2 linked regions of the Homo sapiens genome follow. The protein of the gene in region 1 interacts with the protein of each later gene in a pairwise test. Each region holds a gene or a part of one and is shown in the gene's direction. Other genes may lie near its edges. The genes, in order: EPB41L5 and PALS1.

Evidence for each region.
Region 2: the proteins of EPB41L5 (region 1) and PALS1 interact in binary tests that used the Homo sapiens proteins (3 or more experiments, as listed by UniProt).

Annotation. Positions count from the first base shown.
Region 1 is NC_000002.12:120,002,754-120,019,552, forward strand, and holds the start of EPB41L5 (band 4.1-like protein 5), read left to right. Parts: upstream 1-10,323; 5' UTR 10,324-10,457; exon of another isoform or gene 10,458-10,928; intron 10,929-16,176; exon of another isoform or gene 16,177-16,195; intron 16,196-16,323; 5' UTR 16,324-16,331; coding exon 16,332-16,511; exon of another isoform or gene 16,512-16,515; intron 16,516-16,799. UniProt on the Homo sapiens protein: Plays a role in the formation and organization of tight junctions during the establishment of polarity in epithelial cells.
Region 2 is NC_000014.9:67,311,352-67,327,195, forward strand, and holds part of PALS1 (protein PALS1), read left to right. Parts: intron 1-1,175; coding exon 1,176-1,359; intron 1,360-5,480; coding exon 5,481-5,552; intron 5,553-6,056; coding exon 6,057-6,128; intron 6,129-8,878; coding exon 8,879-9,046; intron 9,047-9,705; coding exon 9,706-9,908; intron 9,909-12,350; coding exon 12,351-12,461; intron 12,462-15,844. UniProt on the Homo sapiens protein: Plays a role in tight junction biogenesis and in the establishment of cell polarity in epithelial cells.

The DNA of each region.
Region 1 (16,799 bases):
AGTGAGAACACATGGACACAGGGAGGGGAACATCACACACGGGCCTGTCGGGGGGTGGGGTGCAGGGATAGGGAGAGCATGAGGACAAATACCTAATGCATGCTGGGCTTAAAACCTAGATGAAGGGTTGATGGGTGGATGGGTGCAGCAAACTACTATGGCACATGTATACCTATGTAACAAGCCTGCGTGTTCAGCATATGTATCCCAGAACTTAAAGTAAAATTAAAAAAAAAAGAACATAATGTGAAAACTTTGGCATTTAGAATCTCCCCTTCTCTAGGGTGTTTTGTTGTTGCTGTTTGTTGTTGTTGTTATTTGTTTGTTTCACAGCTTTCCTGAGCTAATTCTATGAAGTCTGTATTCTTTATTGTATGTAACTATGGAAGTCTTTGTTCAGTTATCTTAGTGATCACCCGATGACTGGATAGAGATTTCCCTAAATGCCTGGAAGCAGTAATTCTCCCAGTCTTCGCTAAAAGGCTTTATGTGTTTGCTGGGGCACACGTTATTTATTTATTTATTTATTTATTTATTTATTTATTTAGAGACAGAGTCTCACTCTGTCACCCAGGCTGGAATGCAGTGGCACAATGTCGGTTGACTGCAACCTCTGCTTCAAGGTATCCTCCTGCCTCAGCCTCCCGAGCGGCTGGGACCACAAACACAGACACATGCCACCATGCCTGGCTAATTTTTGTATTTTTGGTAGAGACAGGGTTTCACCATGTTGCCCAGGCTGGTCTCAAACTCCTGAGCTCAAGGGATCTGCCTGCCTTGGCCTCCCAAAGTGCTGGGATTACAGGCATGAGCCACTGCGCCGGCCTTTCAACATTTAGCCAGGTAATTTACAACTCTGGCTTAGCTTTTCACTTCCTGCTCACTAGGGCTTCAGGGTGTTCTCAGATCTTTCCTGACCATCTTTGTAGCACTGGTCACATTCATAGCCCTTTGCATGCAAGTGGCCTTCTAGATTCCCTTAAATATATCAGAGCTTTTCAAAGACCCTAAGGACTTCTCATCCCCAACTTTTGATTTTGAGATTATTTGTTGTTTTTGTTGGCCTATTATTTACTCAGCTGCCTCAGGCATCCATAATGTTGTCTTCAGCAAATACCCTGGAAAAAAGCGGTTTGTCCTGAATGAGCTTTGGTTGTGTTGTTGTTGTTGTTGTTGTTTGAGATAGAGTCTTGCTCAGTGGCCCAGGCTGAAGTGCAGAGGCGCGATCTCAGTTCATTGCAGCCTTCACTTCCTGGGTTCAATAGATTCTCGTGCCTCAGCCTCCTGAGTAGCTAGGACTACAGGCATGTGCCACCACACCTAGCTAATTTTGTATTTTTAGTAGAGACAGGGTTTCATCATGTTGGCCAGGCTGGTCTCAAGCTCCTGACCTCAAGTGATCTGCCCACCTCGGCCTCCCAAAGTGCTGGGATTACAGATGTGAGCCACTGTGCCAGGCCACCTGAATGAGCTTTGAATCACGTCAAATAAAGACAGTTTTGTCCATGGGGTTTTCTAGGGCACCACCAGACATCATGTAGTGACAGTTCTCTGGGAATGGGACTTTGAAGAAGCTGCTACTGTGTTTTACCTCCTCCAGGGGCTGCCAGGCTGCATTTTTTAAGGCTGTTGTGGAACTAGAAGGAGGGAGATTAGAATAGTGCAAGTTTAAATGCCCTAAAACTCACTGCTCTTATCAAGATTCAGCCATTTTTCCTGAATAAACATCTGCCAGATTGTTATATGTCTTTGGCTAATATGCAGAGTTCTGAAAAAACTGATTCTGAACATTTTTTACAGCCTTTTGTTGCTTCTATGGTGATGATTTTCAGAGATTTTTACTCTGCCATTTCCATCAACTTCTCTCAATACATTGTTTTTAGATACCTTATTTTTCAACATACTCACTGAACGGTATTCTGATTGACTATTGGCTGTTGCCAGGAAACCAAAACAATCCTCAGAGGATAAAGATTATAATGAGAAAATCCAGAGCCCTGTGAAGTAGTGTCTGCCTAAGTACCCAGCTTCATCTCCCACCACTCTTCCATTGTTCTCTGGCATTAACGGTGCTAAGAATAATGTCCCTAAACTGCACATTTTCCATCTTTGCATTACATTCTTTTAACTTTTTGAATTTATTTATTATTTATTATTATTTTTTTGAGACAGAGTCTCACTCTGTTGCCCAGGCTGGAGTGCAGAGGTGCGATCTCAGCTCACTGTAACCTCCGCCTCCCAGGTTTGAGTGGTTCTCCTGCCTCAGCCTCCTTAGTAGCTGGGATTACAGGCGCCCACCACCAGGCCTGGCTAATTTTTATGTTTTTAGTAGAGATGAGGTTTCCCCATGTTGGCCAGGCTGGTTTCGAACTCCTGACCTCAGGTGATCCACCCACCTCGGCCTCTCAAAGTGCTGAGATTACAGGCGTGAGCCATCACGCCCAGCTCATTCTTTCAACTTTTATCTCTATTTTATAAATGAGGAAATTGAGCTTCAGAGAGTTTAAGTGCCCTTCTGGAAGTTAAATAGCTAGTATATGGAGTGCAGAGACCAGAATGAAGGTCTGTCTAACTCTGAAGCCAAATTCAATATTCTTTGAGAGAAACTATTTTTAAAGGAACTATACAAATTTATATGTTTGAAAAAGTATTGTCATAACTTTAACCTGTACCTCATATTTCTCAAACACATTTTGGAAAATGGGCATTTAAAGTGTGATGAGAAAATTATTTCTTTAAAGGAAACTTGAGGTTTGAGTTATTTTTAACAAAACTCTAATAATCTCTAAACCCAGATTTTTTGTATCTGAAATTAATGTAACATTAAATAAAATCTTCTTTATGTATAGGAACAGGTTTAGAATAATAAGTTTTAAGATCTTGAAGAGATCTTAGAATCCTCTCTTCTAATTACCTCATTTTATTTTATTTTTTATTTTTGAGACAGTCTCGCTCAGTCACCCAGGCCGGGGTGCCGTGGTGCGATCTTGGCTCACTGCAATCTCTGCTTCTCGGGTTCAAGCGATTCTTGTGCCTCAGCCTCCCAAGTAGCTGGGACTACAGGCACCTGCCACCACGCCCGGCTAATTTTTTTGTATTTTTAGTACAGACGGGGTTTCGCCATGTTGGCCAGGCTGGTCTCGAACTCCTGACTTCAAGTGATCTGCCCGCCTCAACCTCTCAAAGTGCTGGAATTACAGGCGTGAGCCACTGCGCCCGGCCTAATTACCTCATTTTACACATGAGAAAACCGATGCCAGGAAAGATAATGCCTTGTCCAAATGAGTCAGTAGCAGGTGGTCGCCACTGATCTTTCTACCACAAGGTCTCCTAATACCTTCCCTGCCCCTGGTGTCAAGCAGTAGTCACAGGTATGGGAACAGTCACCTAAAGACCAAGTTACTCAATGTGTAGACCACTAATGTCCACTATCAACACACTGCAAGCTTGTTTGTAGGGCAGAATCTCAGGCCCCACCCCAGGCTTAAACCTTTTAATAAGATCCCCAGGTGACTCATATACATATTAACTTCTAGAAGCATTGAGCCTTGGCTCCTACCTTTTTCTTCCCCTGAGTCTCAGTCTCATCATGGTTTCACCAGTAGGCAAAACCAATGGTGAAATAGTTTCACTTCTGCCTCTCTATTACTCAGTATCATGAACTTGCCTGGAGCCATCAAAGCTTTTCTGATTTTTTTTTTCTTCCTAACAGTATAAATAAAGAGTATAGGCTACCGAGTAAGACACTGTTCCAGATAATCCTGAACAAAATGATGCATTAGGTCCTTTGCCCTGAGTAGCCAGAAGTAGGGGGAAAGCCTGGAGGCTTTGGAGAAAGAAATGACTTGTCTCCAACTCATCCTTCCATGTCTCTTCTCTGCATACTTCCAACCCCTGCCTTCCCCCATTCTGTTAGTGTGTCCTTCAATTAGCCAATGTGGCTAATCATTTAGTATGAATTAGTTTAAGGTCTTACTCCTCCCAGGAATATTTGCAAAGAAGGGAAGGGTGGAATTTCAAACATGCGATTCCGGCTCAGAAAAGATTTAGCTGGGTAAAAGGGAGCCACCAAATCACGTGAAAGTAGGCTTGGGCCGTGGCTCCATTTCAGGAGATCCTAGTCTTCCACTTGTAGCACAAAGGTTATCTTTGCTCCTAGGTCTGTAAAATTTGCATTGTCTTATATGTAGTATTGCATGATTTTGAAAACATGTTAGATGATTTACTTTGTGTAAGGCTCATAACTATTCTGTGGGGAAGCTGGCATCATCTTCATTTTACAGGACTTAAACTTGTTTGGGGCCTTTTAGCTTCCAAATCAAACTCCAGGCTCCTTGCAATATGCTAATAAAATTGTCTCTCTTATGGGCGTTTCTTTTTTTTCTTTTTTTTTTTTGAGATGAAGTTTCGCTTTCGTTGCTCAGGCTGGAGTGCAATGGCGCCATCTGGGCTCACCGCAACCTCCGCCTCCTGAGTTCAAGCGATTCTCCTGCCTCTGCCTCCCAAGTAGCTGGGATTACAGGCATGCACCAGCATGCCTGGCTAATTTTTATTTTTAGTAGATACAGGGGTTCTTCATGTTGGTCAGGCTGGTCTTGAACTCCTGACCTCAGGTGATCTGCCTGCCTCGGCCTCTCACAGTGCTGGGATTACAGACGTAAGCCACTGTGCCTGGCCATGGGAGTTTCTTATGACTGGTTTTAGTTTAGTTTAGTTTTGTTTTGTTTTGTTTTGAGACGGAGTGTTGCTCTGTTGCCAGGCTGGAGTGCAGTGGCGCTATCTTGGCTCAGACTCACCACAACCTCCGCCTCCCAGGTTCAAGCGATTCTCCTGCCTCAGCCTCCGGAGTAACTGCGACTACAGGCACGCACCACCGCACACGGCTAATTTTTGTATTTTTAGTAGAGACGGGGTTTCACCATGTTGGCCAGGATAGTCTCGATCTCTTGACCTCGTGATCCGCCCACCTCGGCCTCCCCAAAGTGCTGGAATTACAGACATGAGCCACAATGACCAGCGTGGTTTTGTTTGTTGATTTATTTTATTTGTACACATCTTTTAAATAGATAATGCTCTCCTAGATTCAGTGTTTGAGAAACAAATTCTTCATGATACTCACTCTTCTGAGGGTATTTTCTTTTCATGGCCCAATCTTGTTTCACCGGTACATTCGCTGCTTCCTCCCTACCATATCATCATGGCCATCACTGTTCTTTTGGAATGCAGGGCCACTTCAGTCTCCAAGAGAACTGATTCTTATGTCGGAATTCTCTCTAAGCCAATCTGTTCAGCATACTTTGACACGAATGAATGGCCTCACCAGGGTGGACCAGTTCAGAGAAGGCTGACTAAGGAAGCAAAGAGCCTGGAAATCAGAACAAGAGAAGATTTTGCAGGCTTGGGACAAGTGTCTTCAATGATTTAAAGGGTTGTGATGTGAAAGAGAGATTATGTTATTTCTTAGGGGTAGAGGTAGATTTACTGTGAAGATAAATCTGGTTTAAGCTTTAGGGCTATTGTGTGGCCTCCTTCCAAGACGCTGTACCTAATTTTGAATCTTTAAATTTGTGTTATTCCAACTAAAGACCTCTTCCCCCACCATCAAATTACAGTATATGAGTTACACAAAAACTGGATATACCCCTATCTGTGTGGAACCAGAGAGCAAACCAGGACCTAGGATAGAAGTGAAAATCTCACGTGAGGGTATTTGTTCAATATATTAGTTCAGTAAAAGAAAATCTTTCCATGGGCCAAGACAATGCCACCAGGAAGTGGGTTTTGGTAGGCACCTTCTTTTTTTTTTTTTTTGAGAGGAGTCTCACTCTGTTGCCAGGCTGGAGTGCAGTGGCGCGATCTCGGCTCACTGCACCTCCACCTCTGGTGTTCAATCGATTCTCCTACCTCAGCCTACCAAGTAGCTGGGATTACAGGCGCCCACTACCACGCCCAGCTAATTTTTGTATTTTTTTAGTAGAGACGGGGTTTCACCATGTTGGCCAGGCTGGTCTCAATCTCCTGACCTCGTGATCCACCCACCTCGGCCTCCCAAAGTGCTGGGATTACAGGCGTGAGCCGCCGTGCCAGGCTGGTAGGCACCTTCTATAGCTACCCACAGTTATTTGTCTCAGCAACATTCTCTCTTTGAGGCTAATAGAATTTGGATTTGTTCAGAAAGTTAAGGAGAGCCCTTGGTCTCCAGCTCCCAAGGGTGAATCCTGACTGGTCTAAGCCAGTCATGGTATTCTCTTTCCCTATGGCCTTTAATTGGTCTGAGTTAGGGCAGGTAGTGTAGTTCTGGCCGGAGACAGGGGGTGCTGGTACTTTCTTCTCTGAATTAAAAGACAAGGCTTCAGGTAAAGGTCTTTTTCCCCTTCCCTTTTATTCCTGAAACTCAAGAAAGCTGGAGATAAGCATCCGTCCTGTGGCCAGTATGCTAGAAGCATGAAAACCAAGGTCAACATGCTAAGGGTGGCAAAGCAGAAATGGTAAAGGGGTTTAGGATCCTTACAGCATTGTTGAGGAGCAGAACCAGTACTAATAGCTGCCTACCTCTAGATTACTTATGTGAGAAAAATAAACTCCTTATTTTTCAAATAACAGTTAAAATTTCCCATTACTTCCAGCCAAATGCATTTTTCCTTGATACAGCTATATTTAAGGAGAGGGCTTTCTCTGTCTCTGGCAGAAGTCAATTTTCTGGTGAATTTATCACGAAACGTGTGTTACAGAGGGTCCCTATGTCTAGAAGAGAGGATCTGGGGAGACAATGATTTGTTATTAGGAATAATTTCACATAATTAGAACATGAACAACTTTCTATGACTTGGGCCCTTAAGTTTCATCCTCCTTTCCTCAAGTCTTCATATTTCCTTTAGCCTATAACCATCTTTCTCAACAGATTTCTCTAACCTCATCCACAGCCTCCTTCAGTTCCACCTTTTTTTTTTCTGGAGATGGAGTCTTGGTCTGTCACTCAGCCTGGAGTGCAGTGGCGCCATCTCAGCTCATTGCAACCTCCGCCTCCTGGGTTCAAGTGATTCTCCTGCTTCAGCCTCCCGAGTAGCTGGGACTACAGGCACACACTGGCACGCCTGGCTAATTTTTGTATTTTTAGAAGAGATAGGGTTTCACCTTATTGGTCAGGCTGGTCTCGAACTCCCGACCTCAGGTGATCTACCCGCCTCGGCCTCCCAAAGTGCTGGGATTACAGGCATGAGCCACCGTGCCCAGCCCCAGTTCCATCTTTGATAGGAGATAGAAAAAAAGATTGAGCAGGATGGATGAAGAGGACACTGTTTTTCAAAACTGGTATGCTTTTCAACAATTTAGGAGAATAAGATATGTTTATAAGTATTGACAGAATTCACTTCCATTTCTGATCTGTAATCAGATAAACCAGAACTTTTCAAATGAGTAAACATCAGGTAAACATGGAAAGAGACAGTCTGGACAGGCTGAGGGGATGGCACTGAAGACCCTGCAGTTTTCCAACTGGCTAATCAGACCCCTGGGAAGAAGGAATGCTTTTCGGGGTACCTGGCCCAGGTGGGTTTGTTTGTTGTTTTTTGTTTTGTTTTGTTTTTAGACAGAGTTTCACTCGCATTGCCCAGGCTGGAGTGCAGTGCAGAGAAAGCAGCTCACTGAAACCTCCGCCTCCTGAATTCACGCGATTCTCCTGCCTCAGCCTCCTGAGTAGCTGGGACGGTTTTCACCATGTTGCTCAGGCCAATCTCGAATTCCTGAGCTAGAACTCTTGAGCCTTGGCCTTCCAAAATGCTGGGATTACAGGTGTCCAGGTGGTATTTTTTTAAATACTCTTTTTTTTTTTTTCAGACAGAGTCTCTGTCGTCCAGGCTGGAGTGCAATGGTGCAATCTCAGCTCACTGCAACCTCCACCTCCTGAGTTCAAAAGATTCTCCTGCCTCAGCCTCCCTAGTAGCTGGGATTACAAGCATGTGCCATCACACCCAGTTAATTTTTGTATTTTTAGTAGAGACGGGGTTTTACCATGTTGGTCAGGCTGGTCTCGAACTCCTGACCTCAAGTGATCCTCCTGCCTCGGCCTCCCAAAGTGCTGGGATTACAGGCATGAGCCACCACATTCGGTCTAAAGGACTTTATTATGAAAAATTTTAGATAGAATAGTTTAACGTCCCCATCACCCAGCCTCAGTTTATGGCCCATTCTTGTTTCATCTATACCATTGCTGCTTCCCCCTGCCATATCATTTCGTTTTTTTGTTGAGATAAAGATGCAAGATGACCAGCAACAATTCCTCCCATCCCTGAACACCCATGCTGCTCCTCTCATGAAGAGTGATGAAAATATTCCACAATTAGATTGTGGTTTGTGGTTCTACAACTCTGTGAAAATACCCAAAGCCATGGAAGTGTACACTTTAAGTGGGTGCATTATATCTCAATAAAGATGTTTTTAAAAGGTGGAGAAGGAAAATTTCTCTATTTTAATAATATTTAAAGAAAAAAAAAGAGGTAGAGTCTCTTTCATCTCCTTGAAACTGGGCGGCCTCTGTGATTTGCTTAAACCATTAACAGGCAGCAGAAGGGACGCTCCGTGACTGCTGGGCATAGCCCTTCATAGGCCTCAGAGCTTCTGTTTTCACTGTTTTGCCACACCAGCGGATCTGCAAGAGAGTAGCCCAGGCAGAACTCAGCTGTTCTTTGCAGCCACCCCAGCGGAGATGCCACACAGACCAGTGAAACCACCTTGGCAGCTCCAGCACCTGTTGAGCTGCCCAGCCAACACCACATGGGGCAGAGATGAGCTGCCAAGCCTGTCTACTACGTTTTGGGGTGGTGGAGGAGTGGGCAGTGCCAAATCCCGAGAAGAAGCTCAATGAGTATTTGTCTCTTTTCATTTCAGCAAGCAGAGGGTCCTCAAGGTAACACCTTCCAGTGGCTCCCCCACCTCTCTCAGAGCTCTAGCCAGGGCCCACAAGGCCCTACATCTTACCCCTTTCCTCTCTGACTGTCACCTCCTCTTCCTCTTGCTTCCTCACTTCTAGCCACACTGGACTTCCTTGAAAAGACAGACCTGTCCCCTTGCAGGGCCTTTTGCCCTTGCTGTTCCCTTCGGTTCTCCCCAGATGGCCACAGGGTTCCTCCCACACCTCCTCTAGGTCTTCATTCAAATGCTACCTTTTTTTTTTTTTTTGAGACTGAGTCTGGCTTTGTCGCCAGGCTGGAGTGCAGTGGCGTGATCTGGGCTCACTGCAACTTCCGCCTCCCGGGTTCGAGCGATTCCCCTGCCTCAGCCTCCTGAGTAGCTGGGACTACAGTCGGACGCCACCAGGCTCAGCTAATTTTTGTATTTTTAGTGGAGACGGAGTTTCACAGTGTTGGCCAGGCTGGTCTCGATCTCCTGACCTCGTGATCCGCCCGCCTCGGCCTCCCAAAGTGTTGGGATTACAGGAGTGAGCCACCGCGCCCAGCCAAATGCCACCTTCTTATTGTGACCTGCTATGTAAAATCGCAAACCCTCACTGCCTGTGGTTATTCCCTACTTGTACTTTTCTTTTTAGCATTTACCAATGTCTGACAGTATTTAATTTCACTAATTTATCTCGTTTATTTTATGTCTCGTTTATATTCCTGCTATAACGTAAACTCCGGGAAGGATTTTTGTCTGTCTTGGTTGTCTGTCGTATCTCGTGTCTAGAACACAGAACTCACAGTAAGTAGGCACTTCAATCAATTACCTGTAGAATGAACGGACTGAATGTCACCTTGTTAGAGTACCCTCCTGACCACACTCTGCTAAGCAGTAATCTTTTATTTCTCTTTCCCAGTTTTATTTTTCCTCATTTACACTTAATCACCTTGTGACACCTATTTGTTTACTGTTTCCCCAGTAGAGTGAAAGTCACTTTAACAGCAGAGATTTAAATGTATTTTAATCCCTACAAAGGAGAAAAAGGGAGGAAATACGTGACAGGCTCTCAATAAGTATTTGCGAAGGATTTAATCTCTTGAACGAATGGATGAATGAATCTAGCAGCCAGCTCCACCAGCCTCCTTCGTGATAGGACTAACTGGGGTCTGTCTGCGGACGGGCGCCTCCTCCGCGGGCGGAGGGCCGCAGCGGGAACTGGGTTTCGGCAGCGCCCCTTTAAACCAGCCGCGGACGCCCGGCTGCTGGCGCTAGTTCCAGCCCGGCCGGGCCCGGCCTCGCCGGTTTCTCTCCAGTCGCCGCGCCGGCCAATTTCCGGGGCGGTGTCATCGCCCGTTTAAGAGCGGAGCGCTCCGCCCTGGGGGCGGAGCTGGGAGGGAGCTTTAAGGGGTGGACGGGCGGGAGGTCGGGGTCCTCCGGGGATTAGAGCCGGTGGGCTCGTTGTGGGCGCCATTTCTCGGCGTCTACCGAGGAGCCGCCCCTTTCTCAGCCTTGCTCGGCTCTTCCCCGCTCTGGTCGCCGGGGCTGCGCCGTCCCCAGCTCAGGTAAGCGCGAGGCCCGGCGGCGGCGCCGCAGTACAGTCCGCTGCGCTCCTAGCCGAGTGGACCCTTCCTCGCCCGCGCCTGCGGTAGCGGCCTTGTCCCCGGGGAGGCGGGCGGGGGCCGCACCCAGACCCTAGGGCGGCCGGCCCCTCTCTCGTCGGGCCGGCAGGGCATTAATCCCGCCGGAGGGAGGGGCGGCGGCGGCCAATGAGGCAGGGCCGCCGAGTTTCGGTCGATACCGCGCGACGGGCCGGGGCGGAGGGCCCGGGGCAGCCGGGTTAATGTTTGCCGAGCGGACGCGCTCCCCGAGCCGCGGGTACCCCTCGCTGGTCCGCTGGGCTGCCGTCCAGCGGGAGAGACAAAAGTCGCAAGGGAAGGGGAAAAACGAACTGAGTTTGTGTCACTGTCTTGGTGGACTTTTCGAGCTAACCTGTATTTGAGAAAAACTTCAGTCTCTTGGGAAAGGAGAGGCAGGTGTGTTCCCATGAAAGACGAGGTCTGAAGGTCCCGCCCCGCCCCCACCCGGGACGGTTGTCGTGCTAATGATGGGTTCTTTGGTGTGTAAATGTTAATTGTGTCTGTGGTTACTCGAATTCTACCTAAGAGCGAGACCCAACTCTTAAAACGTTTGGCAATATTTTAGACTAATATTAAAAGTTTTTAAAGAATTACGGGGAAAATTCCCATAACCGTGTACATTTGTAATGTAACCCACAACTGCATTAACTCAGTTTCTAACATAACCCGTTGCTGAGCTCTAGTTAACCTTGTTGGATTATTTGTGCATGTAATATGCTGTGCAGGCTTTAGAAAATAGGTTAACATTATTCGAAAACGATATGCGTAACTGCTGTTGAATTACTCGCTTGCATTTTCTTTATTGGGAATACTGGGACAAAATATAGTGTTACCTTAAATGGCATTTGCTGTATGTTATATTGCTTTATCAAAAAGCAATTAACCAACCATATTGTGGCCACCAGTCATGTAAGAGTATACATATTTCATGACTAACTTTTGGGTTTTGGGTACTTTTTTTAACCAACTTCTGATAGGATTGCTTAAATTTGCATTTTATGATTCTAAAGGAAATCCTTCTAGTTAGGAACTAGAGTAGAAACTACTGTTTTTTGGAAGCCACATAAACCTACCATCCAAAAATTCCACTGTGTCATTCTAGTGTGTCAGGCGAGATGCGGGTTAAGCCAGCTGTTGGGCCAAAGTAGTGAACAAGCCAGACGAAGTCTTTGTCCTTGTGTGTGAGTGGGGGAAGTAGTCAGTAAAAAAGATAATAATTAACAGATATTTAATTACAATTTCTTTGTTATAAAGAAAAGGCTAAGAGTACTGAAAGAGATGTCGAATTTAGACTCACAAGTCTGAGATTGCTTTTCTGAGAATAAGACATTTCAACTATAAGTCTGAAGTTAGTCCAGTGAAATGGGAGCGGGTGGAAGAGAGGTCAACTGGAAAAAGAGCAATCCAGAAAGGTGGAACAGCTAATGAAAAATGGTCCAGAATTAAAAAGACTCTCCGGCCGAGCAGCAAGAGTACAAGAGCAGAGCAAACAGAGGGGAGTAGGCTGACAGATGGGTCAGGCAAGTAGGAGGAGCTGCATCTAGGACCAGGGCCATTAAAGATTTTAGAACAGGGATCAGATTTGTGGTTGCCAAAAATCCAGTGGCTGCAACATGAAGAGCGCAATTGGAAGAGTGCAGGTGGGAGGGGAAAAGTGAGTATGAGAAAACTTTTTTCACAATCATTAAAAAAAAAAAAAACCCACAACTTTTAGTGATCCATTCATATTATTTTTTTTTTCCATTAAAAAAAATTAGGCCAGGCGCAGTGGCTCACGCCTGTAATCCCAGCACTTTGGGAGGCCGAGGCGGGCGGATCACGAGGTCAGGAGATGGAGACTATCCTGGCTAACACGGTGAAACCCCGCCTCTACTAAAAAAAATAACAAAAAATTAGCCGGTCGTAGCGGCGGGCACCTGTAGTCCCAGCTACTTGGGAGGCTGAGGCAGAAGAATGGCGTAAACCCGGGAGGCAGATCTTGCAGTGAGCCCAGATCGCGCCACTGCACTTCAGCCTGGGCAACAGAGCGAGACTCAAAAAAAAAAAAAAAATTAGGTGGGGTCTTGCTGTGTTGCCCAGGCAGGTCTTGAACTCCTGGCTTCCAACAGTTCCGCCTTAGCCTCCCAAAGTGCTGGGATTACAGACATGAGCCACTGTACCCAGCCATATATTCTTGTTGTGACTTCTGACATGCCCCTCTTCAGAGAGAATCTCAACAGTTTACGTGTGTGTCTGTTTAGCGTGTCTGTGTGTGTGCATGTATCCCATCTCCGTGTAGGATGAAACTCTCTTCAGTGTTCTGTGATTTGATTTTTCACTTAGAAATTTTGTCATATCTAAGTCAACTATTTATTTAAAACAACTGTATTATGGCTGGGCTTGGTGCCTCATGCGTGTAATCCCAGCACTTTGGGAGGCTGAGGTGGGAGGAATCCGATTCCCTGAGGCCAGGAGTTTGAGACAAACCTGGCTAAGTAGCAAGACCCTGTCTCTACAAAAAATCATTGAAAAAACGTTAGCCCGGTGGGATGGTATGTGCCCGTAGCCCTAGGTGGGAGAATCCCTTGAGCATGGTAGATGAAGGCCGCAGTGAGCCCTGGGTGCTAGAGTGAGACTGTCTCTAAAAAAAAAAAAAAAAAAACATAAAAATAAAACAACTGTATTGTATGCTGTTGTGTGTACCATAACTTGTTTAACTGTTTGCACATTGATGAACACATTTAAAATTTTCTTAAATCAGTTATGCTCCGAAAAATCCTGTTCCTACAACTTAAAGCACATGTGTGATTTTTTTTCTTTAGGTTATCCTTCCAGAAATAGAACTGTTGAGTAAGGAATATGCATGTTAAAATTTCTAGTATTGGTCCGGCGAGGTGGCTTACGCCTGTAATCCTAGCACTTTGGGAGGCCGAGGCGGGCGGATCACCTGAGGTCAGAAGTTTGAGACCAGCCTGGCCAACATGGTGAAACCCAGTATCTACTAAAAGCACAAAAATTAGCTGGGCGTGGTGGCTGGTACCTGTAATCCCTGCTACTCAGGAGGCCAAGGCAAGAGAATCTCTTGAACCCGGCAGGTGGAGGTTGCAGTGAGCCGAGATCGCGCCATTGCACTGCAACCTGGGGGACTAGGTTGAGACTGTCTCAAAAAAAAAAAGAATTAAAAAAATATTAATAGCATGGTCAAGTCTCCCTCCAAAAAAGGCCAACGTAGGAGGATTATTTTTTCTCACATTCTTTTTTACACTATCTTGAGTCTTTAAATGACAGACAATATCTTATTTTTTTTCATTTGGATTTTCTTGGATACTGTTAAAGGTGTTCGTTTTTATGAACATCTTTTAAATTATCTTTTAGGACTTTTTCGTATCTTGCTCTTTGTTCTTTTTTTGATGTAGAGTCTCAGTCTCACTCAGGTTGGAGTGCACTGGTGGGATATCATAAAATGTTTCTTGGGAGATATTGGTGGAGTTAAAAGGAATATGTAGGGATTCTGTGACACAGGATTTTAGAAATCTGGGATAACAAGTACAGTCTTAGGCAGCTGAAATGAGACTGGATAGCAAGTTCCAAAGGGAGAAATACCTGGAAAAAAAAATCTGGAGAAAGAGACTGGGACCAGGTATTATATATGAGTGTTTGGAACACTGGAAAGTTATCTAACTAAAATTTTAGTTATTTCCTTGGGATTAGTTTACCTAATTACGCAAGAGTATACATGTGTAAAATGTGTAGGCTAATCTTCAGTGTATAGACATTTTAATATGGTACTATCTTAAAAATCGGATTTTATCGGGTTTATAAATAAATCTAGTTGAAAAAGTCATTTTATCTGAAGGCTTCTCTTGAAAAACAGCATTCTCCTGAATTCTTTTGCTCCCTCTCCTGAGGCAATCATTTTCACATTTTAAATCAAATGCTCTTACTGCTAATTGTTGATTTTTAAATTCTAGTAATGACCTGTTGGCTTGCTGTTACGCATCATGAGGAATTAGCTCTTTCCATATCTGTATCCCCTACCTCTTATTATGTACCTCCTGTCTGTTGTGGTTATTGTTCGATCAGTATTTAGTATTTGACATTGAAATCATTAGCAGCTGAGTCATGTAGTGTATTGTGATTTACTTTTCCTTTTCTGCACAGCTTCTTGTTTTCTTTGGAATTAATAGTCTTTTTGGCTTATTTGTTGGCTTATGTGTACTTAAACTCTCTTTGTTGTGCAAATGAAACACATGAGGATAGCAAAGTGACTTTGATTTTGTGTTTCCATTTAGTGTGCTATGTTTTAAAACCTGTTTTAACTGTTTTGATTAACATTAATGTTCTTTATAGAGTTAAGGAAAAAAGCATTAAAGTACTTTGACATTAAAAAGATTTATGTTAAGTAGTTATTTAAAATCTGTATGTAATAGAATATTTGACAAAACTTAGGAAATTTGAATTATATCTGTATTTTAGCTGAAATAGGTGATTGTTTTTGTGTTTTTATTATGAATGCTCAGAAAAGAAATGGAACTTCTCAGGATTTTTTTTGAGACAGAATCTCCCTCTGCCACCCGGGCTGGAGTGCAGTGAGGCATCTCAGCTCACTGCAAGCTCCGCCTCCCGGGTTCACGCCATTCTCCTGCCTCAGCCTCCCCAGTAGCCGGGACTACAGGCACCCGCCACCACACCCGGCCAATTTTTTTTTTTTTTTTGAGACGGAGTCTTGCTCTGTCGCCCAGGCTGGAGTACCGTGGCGCCATCTCGGCTCACTGCAAGCTCCACCTCCCGGGTTCATGCCATTCTCCTGCCTCAGCCTCCCGGTAGCTGGGACTACAGGCGCCTGCTACCACGCCCGGCTAATTTTTTTTTGTATTTTTTTTTAGTAGAGACGGGGTTTCACCATGTTAGCCAGGATGGTCTCGATCTCCTGACCTCGTGATCCACCTGCCTTGGCCTCCCAAAGTGCTAGAATTACAGCCGTGAGCCACCGCGCCCGGCCACTTCTCAGAATTTTTATGATCATCAAAGGATACCTTAGTGTCTGACATCATCTTGGGATATACAAGATGTTGTACATATAATTTATCTATTTAGAAGACCTGATGAACTTCATGAATGTTTGCCTTCTCCTGCCAAATCAGTTCCTGATAAAATGGTCCGGTAAATTTAGAAAGCTCCAAACTGTGGCTGTGTCTTATACATACAAGTCTTTTAAAACTTTGAATTAAAGTAACCAGCTTTTTAAATTAATTAATTTACTTTTTAATTGACAAAAATTGTGTATATTTATCATTTATAATATGTCTTGAAATATTTATGAAAAGCCAGTTTTAATGATTTTTTTTTTCAAATTTACTTGACCAGGAGCCCTTTTTGTTTTTTATTTACTTATTTTTTGAGACAGGGTCTTGCTCTGTTGCCTGAGCTGGAATGCAGTGGCGCAATCCCAGCTCACTGCCGCTTTGACTGCCTGGGGTCAAGTGATCCTTCTGCCTCACAGCCCCTCAAGTAGCTGGGACCACAGGCATGCACCACCACACCTGGCTAATTTTATTTTTAGTAGTGATTAGTTCTCACTATGTTGCCCAGGCTGGTCTTGAACTCCTGGGCTCTAGCAGTCCTTCTGCCTAGGCCTCCCGAAGTGTTGAGATTGCAGGCGTGAGTCACTGCACCCAGCCCAGGTGTCCTTTTTAGTAGCATTTCTACTAATGTTCACAGGACTTGACTAAATAATGCCATTTGACTGACTGCAAGTTGTGGAGAATCTCATTTTTTTCCTGATGCCATCTTTTTCTCTCTGTTTTTATAGTGACAAAAATGCTGAGTTTCTTCCGTAGAACACTAGGGCGTCGGTCTATGCGTAAACATGCAGAGAAGGAACGACTCCGAGAAGCACAACGCGCCGCCACACATATTCCTGCAGCTGGAGATTCTAAGTCCATCATCACGTGTCGGGTGTCCCTTCTGGATGGTACTGATGTTAGTGTGGACTTGCCAGTAAGTAGGTCTTGCTGAGCTCCAAATTCTGTTTGCGATTACTGTCTTTGTTTGTTTGTTTAAAAGCTTTGTATTGGTAACTTCTGGATGGAAATAAGTAAAGGTATTATGGGTTAGTATAGATCAGGCACTGTAACATTCAGGTACATGGATCAGATAACCGTAGACCAAAAGTACTTGGATTGGTGGTATTTCTCTTTGGAATTAGTGGCGATTACCTGAAACATTTAAATGACAGGGCAGTTATTGGCATGAGTCTGTTTCATGTGTCTTTCTATGTGTTCTTTG
Region 2 (15,844 bases), on another chromosome or scaffold:
GATAGAAATGGACCTTGAATTCTTAGACTGTTTGTCTTTTGCTTGGTTCGTTGAGCCTGAACTTGGAATTTAACCTATGTGTGACAGAAATGCTCACTGCAAATATGTGGGCAGAAATGCTCATTACAAATTTGTGTGAGATCTCATTAGATGAAGTAGATTTCTTATAGATTTTGGAAGTGTCACATGCAACTTGCCCAGGTTAGGTAAAAATTAGACATGGGGAAATTAAAGAGAATTTTAATTCCTTTATAACTTCTTAGAAGTAAGAATAGTCTGTCATATCTTACAGAGGCATATTGGAAGAAATGGCATACAGAATAGCTTATAAAGTTCATGAGAGTTACTACCTGCCCTTAATGCTAAGTAGAATAGCACAATTCTTTGATTTATTCTGATTTCCAAAAACACATTATTAGCAAAAATTATAACTTGTACCGTTAATAATATGTCAAAGCCTACATAGCATACAAATAAGAATTGATTATAAACTTGATTTAGTTAATTTTAGTCGTTGATAGTGTGCTTGTTTCATGAACATATCCTTTAAAAGAAACGCCAAGAGAGTTTAAGGCATAGTTGGACTGACAGTGGGGTCAAGAGACAATGACAGCCCCAGGGAAGCTCATATTTACCTGCTTAGATGAAGAGATGTGGTAAGGTAAAGTGTACCTTTTCTAGTAGCTGTGGTTTGGAAATTGCATACCTTATTGCAGAGTCATTGTTTTCACAGGTCAGGATTCTATTCTATTTCTGCTTCTCTCAAGCTTTTGAGGCACCTTGTACCTCAGCTTGTAGCTGCGAACAGTGTTGTGGATATCCTTGTACATATCTGCAAGTCAACAGAGAAGATAACAGATCAGCCTGAAAAAATATTGCCCAAAAACACTGTTACTTAACACCCTTCTTCCAACTACAATTTCTTTGCACTGATGAAAAATTGTGGCCAAGTGCAGTGGCTCACACCTATAATCCCACCACTTTGGGAGGCTGAGGGAGAAGGATCGCTTGAGGCTAGAAATTTGAGATTATCCTGGACAACATACTGAGATGCTGTCTCTATTAAATTTTTTTAAAATTAAAAAATAATAAAAAATTTGTAGCATTTAAATTGTATTCATATGAAACATTTTATATTGCCATTTATTGTTGTTTTTGCCCTTTTTATCTTTTAGATCCATGTAAAAGCTCATTTTGACTATGACCCCTCAGATGACCCTTATGTTCCATGTCGAGAGTTAGGTCTGTCTTTTCAAAAAGGTGATATACTTCATGTGATCAGTCAAGAAGATCCAAACTGGTGGCAGGCCTACAGGGAAGGGGACGAAGATAATCAACCTCTAGCCGGGCTTGTTCCAGGTAAGACACAATATGGTAGAAAGTACATAATATTAAAAGAACATTGAAAATGCAAGCCTTCACAAAGAAAAACTCACTCTTTCATGCCTCTATTTAATAAAGTATTCCAGTTACTTTTTCGTGTAGTTGGGTTTTTATGTTGTACCTGCAGCGTAAGTATATTAAATAGAATGTGGCCAATTCTTTGGCCTTTAGAATGGAATTATGTATAACTTCAGCCAATCCCATATTGTAGTACATTTCCTGTATACATATTAAGATGACCGTATTATCGAGGCAATACAACTTGTATTATACTATATACTATATACTATGACATTAATTGGAGCATCAACATGATTTTTGAGAAGGAAAGATGCATAACTTTATAAGGAGTCAGGAAAAGTAACATCATAGAATTTATTGTACCAAACGTGATCTTAGGGCAGAAACAGGATGCTCCAAATTTTTTATTGATGAAACTATCCCTAACTTAGACTAAACTAAAACTTTAGCTTACATTATAGATTAAGATTATTAAGGGGACATGTTTCTGAGAGTTAAGATGATACAAAATAGAACAAAGTACAGTCATGCATCACTTAACGACAGGGATAAGTTCTGAGAAATGTGCCATTAGGTGATTTCATTGTTGTGCAAACATCACTGAGTGTATTTACACAAACCTAGATGATATAGCCTGCTGTACAGCTAGGCTATGTGGTATAGCCTATTCCTCCAACCACCATCATATATATGGTTGGTTGTTGACTGAAATGTTGTTATGCAGTGCATGACTGTATGTAGATATAATTATTTTCTACAAATGGCTCTTACAGTTCCCAGGATGGCAGTAGAATAAAGAAAGGAGAGCAGAACTAAGGGAAGTTTAATAAGCTATCGGAGAAGGCAAAGGAATACATACAGGATGATAAAAATAGGGATATAGAGTAAAGGGATAATAATTCATCCATTTATTTGTTAATAAATGCTGTTATGTCTGCACCATGTAAAGCACTTTGCCTGGTGCTGAGATAAACTTCGCTTACATACTTTACTTGAAAGCATATCCATTAACACTTATGTATATTTTTTTCTTCTGTGTCCCCTACTTTATAATATTTTCATGATATTGTCTCTGTTATAATTCTTTCTACTGTATATGCTCAGTTTATAAACTTCTTGATGTCAGAGGCCAAGTCTTATTTGTTTTAAATCCAGATAATATATGTTAAATTAATGAATAAAAGATGATTTTAAAAGTTCTCAGAAAACAAACAAAAATTAAAAAAAAAAAAAATAGTTCTGCCAGAACTGCTGTTTCTGAATTAGACCTTTCAATGCTTTGCTGTAATGTTTTTCTGGCCTTATCTTTTATCTACAACCTTTTTTAGCGATCATCCCTCCTACTCACACCAGAAGATTTTAAGCATAACAGATTTGGCTATAGACTTAGCCTTACACTGGATTTGACAACAAGCAATAGTTTAGGGGAAAAGAAGAAAAGGAGGGCATGAAAAAAAAGACTGAGAAATATTGACTATGAGATACATAGTAGGAACAGAGGAAGTTGTCCAAAGATTTTAGAATAAGTTATAAGGAATCTCTTTTATCTCTGTAACTAAGCCAAAGAGACTTTTCTGGGTACAAGAGATTTCAACATAATATTTACATTTATTCTTTTTGAGTATAAGGTCACAGAAAGCTTCAAATTTCTCACTTTAAAACTCAGAGGCTAGAAACAGATTTTGTCTATATCAGTCATATTTTAAGGAAGGAGGAATGGACTTCTTACATTTATTTTAGAGTATGATGCTAAAACCCGTGATTCTTCAGAGTAACAGTTACAGGACATTTCTCTAGAATCTTGGAGTGTTGGGTAGCCATTGTGGTTCTGCCTCAGGCTTGTGCCAAATATCAGTATGGTGTCTTCCTACCATGCCGAACTTTAGCCCATAAATGTTTAGAACTAGTGTTTGTTGATAGATTGATTTTCTGAAAGTATATAGATTCCAATGATGACATTTCTAAGTCTTTTTATAAGACTAAAGATCTGCCTTAGAGTTTGACGATGGCTTTCCATCAGAATTAGACAGATTTTTTTAAGAGGTCATTATGAGGCTGGCCCTGGTGGCTCACACCTGTAATCCCAGCACTTTGGGAGGCTGAGGTGGGAGGATTGCTTGAGCCCAGGAGTTTGAGACTAGCCTGGGCCACATAGTGGCATAGCTGACATAATGAGACTTTGTCTCTACAAAAAATTTAAAAATTAGCTGGGCATGGTGGTGCGTACCTGTAGTCCCAGCTATTCAGGAGGCTGAGGTGGAAGGATTGCATGAGGCTGGAAGGTTGAGGCTGCAGTGAGCTTTGATCACACCAGTGTAACAGAGCAGTCTCAGAAAAAGAAAGAAAATCATTTCCATCTCTCATTAATTTCTGCCTCTATTTCAGAATAGCCTATAGTTCATACTACAAAAAGTGCCACAGAAGTACATCATTGTAATGTTTTACATTTTTAATATGTAAATGATTAAAATTACTTTGTTCTTGATTTTTAAAAATCGGTTACTTATTTTTAATTTTTTTTTTTTTTTTTTTTTTTTTTGAGACAAAATCTCGCTCTGTCTCCCAGGCTGGAGTGCAGTGGCATGATCTCAGCTCACTGCAAGCTCCGCCTCCCGGGCTCATGCCCTTCTTCTCTCTCAGTCTGCTGAGCAGCTGGGACTACAGGTGCCCACCACCACGCCCAGCTGATGTTTTGTATTTTTAGTAGAGATGGGGTTTCACCGTGTTAGCCAGGATGGTCTTGATCTCCTGACCTCGTGATCTGCCCACCTTGGCCTCTCAAAGTGTTGGGATTACAGGCATAAGCCACTGCACCCGACCCCTTTAAATTTTAATACTCTTAAAATTTTCCTTCTAGTAATAGTTACTTGTACTAAGAATACAGTCTTGGCCGTGCACAGTGGCTCATGCCCCTAATCCTGGCACTTTGGGAGGCCAAGCAGGAGGATCACCTGAGATTAGGAGTTTAAGACCAGCCTGGCCAACATGGTGAAACCGAGCCTCTACTAAAAATACAACCATTAGCTGGGCATGGTGGCGGGCCCCTGTAATCCCAGCTGCTCGGGAGGCTGAGGCATGCGAATCCCTTGAACCTGGAAGGCGGAGGTTGCGGTGAGCCAAGATTGCGCCACTGCACTCCAGCCTGGGTGACAGAGCGAGACTTCGTCTCAAAAGATAACCAGGCTTCCTTTAATGCTTCTTATGTGTATGGAAGTCAGTATTAATCTTTTTGTTAGTACACTTACGAAATGCACTAAGTTCTACAGATTATCCCCACCTATGTAGAATTTGCTTATTGATTTTTAAGAATCTCTGGCTTTACACTGAAAAAAAGTAGATTTAAAAATAAAATAAAAAAGTGGAACCTCAACGTAATTCAGAATCTTCTAAGTGAAGCCACTTGTATCCTATAGGAAAAGACATATTTGATTTAAAGTAGAAGTCGGAAAAGAAAACCTCTTTCAAGGTCAGGAACCTTGAAAGCCTCCTATATTAAAATATTAATTTTGTAAGGAAAAGCACGTTTTCCATTTATATAATTGGTAACTTAAGGGTGGAAATAAAAAATGGCTAACACATATACATACACAAAAGAAGAGGAATTGAGAATAATGCATGCAAGGGAATATACTGAATGGTTTCTTGGAATTGAATATGGAATTGAATATGTGATGAATGCGCACATGTTGTTTTGGAAAAGTTAATTCCTAGAATTGATATCCTTAATTTGAGATAATTCTAAAGGACCTAGAACCATTGTAAGATCCAGGATAGTACTTTTCCACAAAGTAAATGCTCAATGAAACCTTTTAAAAAGTTGAACTATTAAATTTTTAAATATTTTAGTAGATGATATGTATTCTAATAATACATATGGGATTGATTGAGCAGAGTTAATATTTTAAAAATTTGGAGGCTTACACATCATAGCTGACATTACTCCTGTGTTGGCAAAAGGATTTGGAAGGGAATATAAGTGAAGAGATATGTCTAGTGTTTTCCCTTCTTGATTAAAAAAAAAATTCTTATCCTTTTATCTTAAATATTTTACCCTTCTTTTTCTTTCTGCTATTAAGGGAAAAGCTTTCAGCAGCAAAGGGAAGCCATGAAACAAACCATAGAAGAAGATAAGGAGCCAGAAAAATCAGGTTAGACACTTGTATTTGACATAAGTAAATGGTTTCTTGGGTCTTCATCTGGAGCCATGTGTGAATCTGCATATTAGAACCGTGAAGAAGTACTCAGGGAAAGAGTGATACAAGAGGCAAAACTGATTATCTCAGAACTGTAAAGAAAGGATAAGATTTAAGTATTAAAGATTATCTGTCTATACTGTGTAGTTAATTGAAAATTGTAAATGCTTTCCTGAAAAATAGTCTTTATACAAACAGTGTAATAAGTATTTATAAAAGTAAATTAAAAACAAGCTGGGTGTGGTGGTTTGCACCTGTAATCCCAGCACTTTGGGAGACTGAGGCGGGAGGATCACTTGAGGCCAGGAGTTCAAGACAAGCGTGGCCAACATATGGAGATCTCGTTTCTGCAAAAAAATTTAAAGAATAAATGAATGAATAAATAGAGTTCTTCAATTTGAGTTATGTGGTTTTGTTCACGGGAACACATTTATAGTTATGTTTATGATTGCTCAACAGGAAAACTGTGGTGTGCAAAGAAGAATAAAAAGAAGAGGAAAAAGGTTTTATATAATGCCAATAAAAATGATGGTAAGTTCTACTCTCAGGGATAGGTGGAATTATATCTGAAAGGAGTCTAAACCTAGTCCTGTTTTGCACCTTAATGTTAAATATGTGCTTGAGAAAATCATTTAGTAGAAAGTATTTTCTTTTGGAATCCTGTGAGTAAGGCAGTGTTTTGAATTCTGGGGAAAACTGATACAAAAATTCAAGTACTATTTAGCATATGTAGTATTAAATTGACAGTTTCCTGTAGTTTTTTTCTACTTAAACTCTTTGCAAAAATTATACTTCTAACAAATTCTTACAGAACATACTTGAAGTAAAAACTATGTCCTCTACAATAGCTCATGTCACAGAAGCAACTCATTCCTGAGAACCCACTACCTGCTGGCTAAGTCAGACACACAAGAGAATTTTAGTTTTATTTTGATTGATTGCTAAGATTAAAAAGCTCGAAAGTTGTAGCTTCTCTTAAAATCAAAAGCTCTGATAATGTTGGGCTAGTATTCCTAGGTGACAACAGTCTGCTGGACCTGAGTGATGACTGTTGCTCTTATATCAAGCACCTGGTGTCTAGTTTAACAGTCTCTACCACTCCCAGTGTTTTATTAACCCAACCTGATTTACTGATTTTATTACCTCCTTAGTTTGTTTTTATGGGCATTTGAGTTTGCTACTTCTGTTTGGTTCACATTAGAAGCAACCCAAATAATAAAGCAAAGGCTTTCCTTCTTATGTAATTTATAAGGCTTTTCTGTCAAGAATTTGAAATATTTGGGAGCAGCACACATTAAACTAATAAAGATAAAACATTATAGATCATTATAATATTCCATAAAAGCTAAATGAGGTTTGATCAACTTTAATAAATTTTTTTCTAAAATAAATATCCTTTAATGCTAATTGACAGATTATGTAACTAAAAAGATTTAATGAGTTTTAAATTTTATCCTCTATATTTGTGATTAATATCTCTTTTATTTTTTGAAACAGACTGAAGTTAACTAGTCCAGCTCTAAGAGCTACTGTACTGTAGAAAACGTGGCAAATCTGAACCTTATGGATATACACACTGAGTCTATAAATTAAAATGCTACCAGTCTTGATTATACGTGTTAGAATAAACTCAGATTTTTCAGAGAAAATCATTTTGAGAGGAGAAGGAATTACATTTGCTGTTTATGATGATGTCATCATCATGAATATTTTTAAATAAATAACTACAATTCATAATAACTGCTGTATTCCAGGGCAGTAACTATATGATGTTGTTCTCACAAACTCCTTGAGGTTACAGAGTAATAGATTCAAGTTTAGATATTAGGCCGGGCGCGGTGGGTCATGCCTGTAATCCCAGCACTTTGGGAGGCCGAGGCAGGCGGATCACGAGGTCAGGAGATGGAGACCATCCTGGCTAACATGGTGAAACTCCATCTCTACTAAAAAATACAAAAAATTAGCCAGGCGTGATGGCGGGTGCCTGTAGTCCCAGCTATTCGGGAGGCTGAGGCAGGAGAATGGCGTGAACCCGGGAGGCGGAGCTTGCAGTGAGCCGAGATCGCGCCACTGCACTCCAGCCTGGGCGACAGAGCGAGACTCCGTCTCAAAAAAAAAAAAAAAGTTTAGATATTAAAGTGATTTGCTGAAATTCTTAACAACTAATACATGATTGGTTGAGCTGGAATTTAAACAAGTGTAGTTTGAGCTCCTGCTCTGTGCCAGGCTCTGTGCTGAGCATTGACAAGCCTAAGATGGTCCCCTAACCTCATGGAAATAGAGCTGAGGGAGTCTGACTTCACATCTGATGCTCCTTCACAGTCAGGAGAAGTAATATGAGTGAGGACTTGGCAGGCTACTAGTTATCTGCTTTTGTTCTTACCACTTGACAGCTCTGGTTTCATCTGGATTATGGGCTTTAGGAATGTTACCCCACCTGTCATAATTTATACCTCATTTTGATTCATGACTCTGGGTTAGCATTCCAGAGTAGAGTAAACATAAATGCAGAAAGTGGAGATAGCATGCATATGGCCTGTTTTCAAGTTATACAACTACAGCAGGGGTATCCAATCTTGTGGTTTCCCTGGGCCACATTAGAAGAAGAATAGTCTGGGGCCACACGTAAAATACACTTAACACTAGAGATAGCTGATGAGCTAAAAAAAAAAAAAAAAAAATTGCAAAACAATCTCACAGTGTTTTAAGAAAGTTTACAAATTCGCATTGGGCCCCATTCAAAGCCGTCCTGGGCTGCATGCAGCTCATGGGCCACGGGTTGGACGAGCTTGAACTATAGGAAAGTATTCCAGCTTTCTCTGATAACACTGGTTGTAGCCACTATATGTAAATGTCGGTCTATGCTAGCCATTGTATTCAGCGTATACATTATGTCTGATTCTTAAAACAACCTTCTTAAGTAGAATATTAATATCTGCATTCTTCAAAAATGACGGATATTACTCTTACTAGTTCATTCCCTGGTACCGCATCCTTATTCAAAGTATTGACTGCAAATTAGCTGTTTAATGTAAGAATCAGTATAATTATATTGTATTAGACATTCAAGCATGAATTTTTTATTTCAAATATGAAATGAGATAAAAATTAATAGAAGGAGTATTATATTGTTGTCTGATTCATTTTCATGATACCCTAGCAAGGATGTAATGACAATAAATTGTGCTTTTGTCTAATTTTGGGTGAAGATCTATGAGTATTTATATCTTTAATACATGGCCATAATTTTGTTTGAAGAGCTTAACTTTTTTTTCCCAAAGATTATGACAACGAGGAGATCTTAACCTATGAGGAAATGTCACTTTATCATCAGCCAGCAAATAGGAAGAGACCTATCATCTTGATTGGTCCACAGAACTGTGGCCAGAATGAATTGCGTCAGAGGCTCATGAACAAAGAAAAGGACCGCTTTGCATCTGCAGTTCCTCGTAAGTTTGAATGCATTCCCATTTTCCTGTGCTTTTCAATTTACCAGCTCAGAACCTAACTATATCATGTAGGGAAATTTTTTATTCATTTCATTAAAACACTGTTGTCAGTGAAAGAGGAACTTTAACCAAAGATTTTGACAATTTTTAAATTAAAAATAGTCATTATTAAGAAATTTAAATTTGTCCTTCAAGTATGTACTGATTATTTTCTAAACAAATTTCAGTTTGGGCCCCTTATAATTTCCTGTTCCATAGAGAATCAGTTCCTGCTGCTTTAAAGTGATACAGAAGATAGAAACTTAGGCATAATCTGAAACAGAAGTTATAAGATTATATGGTACCTAATCTTATGGAGATAAACTTTAGGAGAAGATGAGTAGTAGTGTTTTAAATGCAGGATGAAGTAACTTGAAGTGTAAGCATAAAATGTATTGAGATAAATATAACTATTACTAAGATACTACAAACTCATTTTTGTTCATTTTTCAATCTACAAAAAATAAAAACAATGTTAAACATGTAGGCACTTAGCATTTTCTCAGTTTATTATTTTATAATCTGTGTTACAAAATAGAAATTCTTTCTGACTAGCAGAATTATCCCCTGTCCTCACTCTAAGCCATGCCTGTTATTTCTATCTGATTTTGTTTGCCTAGATACAACCCGGAGTAGGCGAGACCAAGAAGTAGCCGGTAGAGATTACCACTTTGTTTCGCGGCAAGCATTCGAGGCAGACATAGCAGCTGGAAAGTTCATTGAGCATGGTGAATTTGAGAAGAATTTGTATGGAACTAGCATAGATTCTGTACGGCAAGTGATCAACTCTGGCAAAATATGTCTTTTAAGTCTTCGTACACAGGTAAAGCTAGAACTTTGTTTTAGGGTTTGAACTTAGAAGGAATGTCATATAGAGTAATCTAGTGGAAGCTATATTTTGGTCCAAGAACAGCGCGACCTAATTAAGTTCTCATACGGTTTTTCCCACTGATTTGCTATCTGAAATCACACAGGTTGCTAAATCTCTTTCAGTTTCCTCAGAGGGAAAACATATACATACTTACATATACAGGTTGACTATCTCTTATTCAAAATGCTTGAGACCAGAGTGTTTTGAATTTCAGAATTTCTCAGATTTTAGAATATTTGCATATATATAATGAGCTATCTTGAGGATAGACCCAAGTCTGAAATTAAATTCATTTATCTTTTATATACACCTTATTTACTTAGCCTGAAGGTAATTTTATTTTTCCTGGGGATATTGAATAAACTGTCTGCTCCTGTATTTTGACTATGACCCGTCACATGAGGCCAGGGTAACGTTTTCCACTTGTGCTGTCATGTCACTGCTCAGAAAGTTTCAGATTTTGCATTTCAGATTTTTGGATTAGAGATGTTCTGCTTGTATATATGCTTGTATGTATGTTCTGAAACTTAAAATACAGTAAATATAGTATTGGTAGTACTTTAATTTGAGTCTATGAAATAATTTCCCTTTTCTGATTCCGATATGAGAAAAATTAGAAAATTTCAAGATTATTTTTATGGTTTAAATGCCATTGTTCAAATATTAACAAGTATCACAGTGAATGCTTGGTTGTATGAAAATAATGAGACCTCAGTTTCACTTATTTGGCAGACTAAGCAAAAGTGTAAAATTACTAACTAGTGCCTCTTAGCTTTCTATTTAAAATGATAATTTTAGGACGCCAATGTGGGTGGATCACTTGAGTTCAGGAGTTCCAGACCAGCCTGGGCAACACGGCAAAGCCCCATCTCTACCAAAAATTAAAAAAAATTAGCCAGGTGTGGTGGCATGCACCTGTGGTCCCAGCTGCTTGGGAGGCTGGGGTGGGAAAATCGCCTGAGCCAGGGAGGCGGAGATTGCAGTGAGCTGCACTGCACTCCAACCTGGGTGACAGAGTGAGCAGAGTGAGACTCTGTCTGAAAAACAAAAACAAAAAAACCTAATTTTAGAAACTTGGAGTTTTTAAGAAACTCCAAATGTTACGGAAAATTGTTTAATTTTTGTAGACCATACAGCTTTAGCATACGACTTTCCTTAATGTGGTAGAATCTGCTGCTCATGTCAAATTAGGCAACATAGTCAGTGGTCATTAAAGAGATGTACATAAAGGAGAATTGACTCTAAAATGGCTATTCTAAAATAGTAATTAGGGATTTTTGTTTGTGTTTTAGTGGACAAATGCACTTAGGCTCTACTATTTCAATTATAAATTTTTGATTTAAGAGAAGTATACATGTTTTTACTAAATTTCTTTAGAGTTCTTTATATTATTTGGGCAAACAGGTTTTTAAAATTCTTATTTCTCCAGAAAAAAGGGCTAACAGATTTTAACAAAGAACTCAGCATATTGTTTTAATCATCTTAATGTTTTTAGATAGCAATGGCATATTCCTATAATCTCCATTTTGATAGAGCGTGTCAGTTTGAGCACACACAGTCATGCATTGGTAATCAAGTGAAAACTGCAATCTCCAGATTCAAACATAGTCTACTTTTTCTTGGATGTGCTTTTCTTGAATTGTCTTGCACATGTGAAGTTATGTTCTATGATTTTGCTTATATTTAGTGTCTGGCACATAGTAAGGCAACTTGTATGATTCTAATTGCTCCAAAATTGATTTTTAATATGGTTATTGTAATCTGTATGTGATCTTATTATTAAAACTAGGTGTTTTAATATCACATAGTTGTCATCCTTCAGTATCATTCACTTACATTTCATTACATAAAAGAGCAAGCTAAAATTATATGTATATAATATGTATTATATGTGTATATATATACATATATACACATATATACACGTGTGTGTGTGTGTGTGTGTGTGTGTGTGTATATATATATATGGCTTCACAGTATATTCTTACAGTGAATGGTAGGATCTTAAAAATATTGTGAATTGGGCCAGGTGCAGTGGCTCATGCCTGTAATCCCAGCACTTTGGGAGAGACCAAGGCAGGAGCATTGCTTGAGGCCAGGAGTTCAAGACCAGCCTGGACAACAAAGCGAGATCCTGTCTCTACAAAAAAGTAAAAAGTTAGCTGAACATGGTGGTGCATGCCTATAGTCCTAGCTACTGGGGATGCTGAGATGAGGGGCCACTTGAGTGCAGCAGATTGAGGTTGCAGAGAGCTGTGATCACACCACTGCACTCTAGCCTAGGCAACAGAGCAAGTCCCTTAATCTAATATATATATATATATATATATCAGTATTATTAGGAAGTAATTAAATGATGCAAATTATTTTAAAAATCAAAATGTCTCTTTACAGTCATTGAAGACTCTCCGGAATTCAGATTTGAAACCATATATTATCTTCATTGCACCCCCTTCACAAGAAAGACTTCGGGCATTATTGGCCAAAGAAGGCAAGAATCCAAAGGTAAAGTTTTCACACTATTGTACTATTCCATTGAAGGTAAACATGAAACAGTCCTGGTCTAATTTGTCCTGGTGCTTAAAAGCTACATTAGCTTGAGCTTTCAAACTGATTATTTTTTCTGTAATATTACTTGCCCAAAAATTGCCATGGTTGCCACTGGGTTGGACTATGGCAGCTTTCCAAAGTTGGGGCATCTACATTTGGTAACCTTTGAGCGTCTTCACATGGGTCTGTGACATTTCTAGGGAGATGTGACTGCCACCAAAGTTATCAGCCAACTCTTCAGGATTACTGACTTTTCTCTGTAGATACTCCACATTTTCAGGGAGCCAAATTTGAGTGCTCTTGCTTTTCTCTTCTTTTTATCCCACTGAAACTTTATGTTCTGCTTTTTTTCTCCCTTTGGTCTTCTCACATGGTTTGGAACAGAAAAATTTTTTTAAATTATTTTAGATCTATGCTAGATATGGTTGAGGTAGTCCATGTCATATTAAACATTAATAATTGACTGATAACATGTTATTAATAAGACAGCATTGACTTTTTATTTAAATATGTAAGATGGTAACTCTGTCAGGTGACTTACTGTATCAGAGTAACATGTTCTTCCTTGTTTTTTTTGCTCCATATTTATTAAATAGATCTACTTTTGAGAGGGCTCACTCAGATTGCCTCATTTCATTGACTATGCCTTTAAATCTCCTTAAAGATAGTCATTAAAAGCATATTTACACTCCTTTCTTTTGATTGTTTTTTTTGTTGTTGTTGTTGTTTTGGTCGTTGCTGTTTTGAAATAGGGTCTTACTCTATTGCCCAGGCTGGAGTGTAGTGGCATGTTCATGGCTCACTGCAGGCGCAGACTCTGGGCCCACGTGATCCTCTCACCCCAGCCTGTCCAAGTGGCTGGGACTATAGCCATGCACCACCATGCCTGGCTAATTTTTTATGTATTTTATAGAGACAGGGTCTCGCTATGTTGCCAGGTTGGTATTGAACTCCTGGCCTCAAGAAACCCTCCTTCCTGCCTCAGCCTCCCAAAGTTCTTGGATTGCAGGTGTAAGCTACCACGCCCAGCCTTCCTTTCATTTTTTTTTTTTTTTTTTTTTTTTTGAGACTGAGTCTTGCTCTGTCACCCAGGCTGGAGTGCAGTAGCGCAATCTCGGCTGACTGCAAGCTCCGCCTCCCAGGTTCACGCCATTCTCCTGCCTCAGCCTCCCTAGCAGCTGGGACTACAGGTGCCCACCATCATGCCTGGCTAATTTTTTTGTATTTTTAGTAGAGACAGGATTTCACCATGTTAGCCAGGATGGTCTTGATCTCCTGACCTTGTGATCCACCCGCCTTGGCCTCCCAAAGTGCTGGGATTACAGGCGTGAGCCACCAGGCCCAGCCTCCTTTCATTCTTGACTGTCCACCACAACACATTAACCCTTCCTCTTCCTCTTCACCCTCCAAAATATCTTTTTTCACTCTATGTCTACTTAACATTTCTTAATCTATATGTGAGGTTAAGAAATGATATATATATATCATCCTACATGATGAGCATAATTCTGGTTGCTTTGTCTAGGCTAAGTAGGCTAGCTGGTTAAAGTAGTGCTGCACCCCTTTTTCATTTCCGCCATATACCTACAAATTCTTAAGTAACTGGGGTCAGAGTATTTGTTGTCCATAGCACTTGGGATGATACAAAGGAAATAGGCAGCATGGTCACTGGCTGTTCTTGAGGAGGATCACAATATAACAAGAGAAACGAGATTAATACTGTGTAAAATTTAGTGTCCAATAACTACTTTGGTAGAACAGAAACTCCATGGTTGTTCAAGGAAAAGGATGCGCACTAAGGACCAGAGTGTACTCCATGCTTCCTGTTCAGCCTAATTTTCCACTTCCTAACATGCACACTTATTTCTTTTTAGGCTATCTTTTTTTCCAACAAGGATTTGCTATCATATGAAGGGCCATAGACCATTCCAAAACATGTTAAACATGTTAAGCATCTTTTTTTTTTTTTGAGACAGAGTCTTACTCTGTCGCCCAGGCTGGAATGCAGTGGCGTAATCTTGGCTCACTGCAACCTCCGCCTCCTGGGTTCGAGCTATTCTTCTGCCTCAGCCTCCCGAGTAGCTGGGATTACAGGCACCTGCCACCACACCCGGCTCTTTTCTTTTTTTTTTTTTTTTTTTGTATTTTTAGTAGAGACTGGGTTTCACCGTGTTAGCCAGGATGGTCTCGATCTCGTGACCTCGTGATCCAGCCTCCTCGGCCTCCCAAAGTACTGGGATTACAGGCGTGAGCCACCGTGCCCGGCCAGCATCTTTCTTTTGGTTGGTCTCTGGCCGTGTTCTAATGGAATTTTTATCTACTTCACTTTGAATTGGCCATCCTAAAATTTCAATTTAGGTCTGATTTTTTTTTTTTTTTTTTTTTTTTTTTTTTTTTTTTTTGAGAGGAGATTCTATATGTCACCCAGACTAGAGTGCTGTGGCATGATCATAGCCTTGAACTCCTGGAGTCAAGTGACCCTCCCGTCTCAGTATAGGCATGTGCCACAGGTCCTAGCTTATACATATTTTTAAAGCAGGAAGTTGATCAGTACCAAAATGTTTTAACAATATGCAATATATTTGATTTTCTAATTAGAACTTTCTGATTCTTTTACTTTGCTGAAGTATATTTTACCTACAATACATGCATTTTAGTTGTATAATTCAGCAAGTTTTGGAAATGTGTACCTGTGTAACCACCATGCCAATCAAGATTTAGAACATTTCTATCACTCTAGATAGTTTTCTTATGCCCCTTTGAAGTTAATACCCCTCCATTCTTTCTTTCTGGCAACCACTAATCTGCTTTCTGTCACTATAGATTTGTTTGATCTGTTCTAGAAGTTCATATAAATAGAAGCATGCCGTTTGTTAAAGTTTGTGTCTGGCTTTTGATCAACATGTTTTTGAGATTGATCTGTGTTGCATCTAACAGCAGTTCATTCCCTCTTAATGCTGAGTAATATACTATGATATTAATATACCACAATTTATCCATTCTTCAGTTAAAAAATATTTGGATAAAATTTTGAGGGCCGGGCACAGTGGCTCACGCCTGTAATCCCAGCACTTTGGGAGGCCGAGGCGGGCAGATCACTTGAGGTGAGGAGTTTGAGACCAGCCTGGCTAACATAGTGAAACCCCGTCTCTACTAAAAATACAAAAGTTAGCCGGGTGTGGTGGCATGCACCTGTAATCCCAGCTACTTGGGAGGCTGAGGCCGGAGAATCACTTGAACCCGGGAGGTGGAGGTTGCAGTGAACCGGGATTGCGCCACTGCACTCCTGCCTGGGCAACAGAGTAAGACTCTCAAAAAAAAAGAAAAAATTTTTTTTG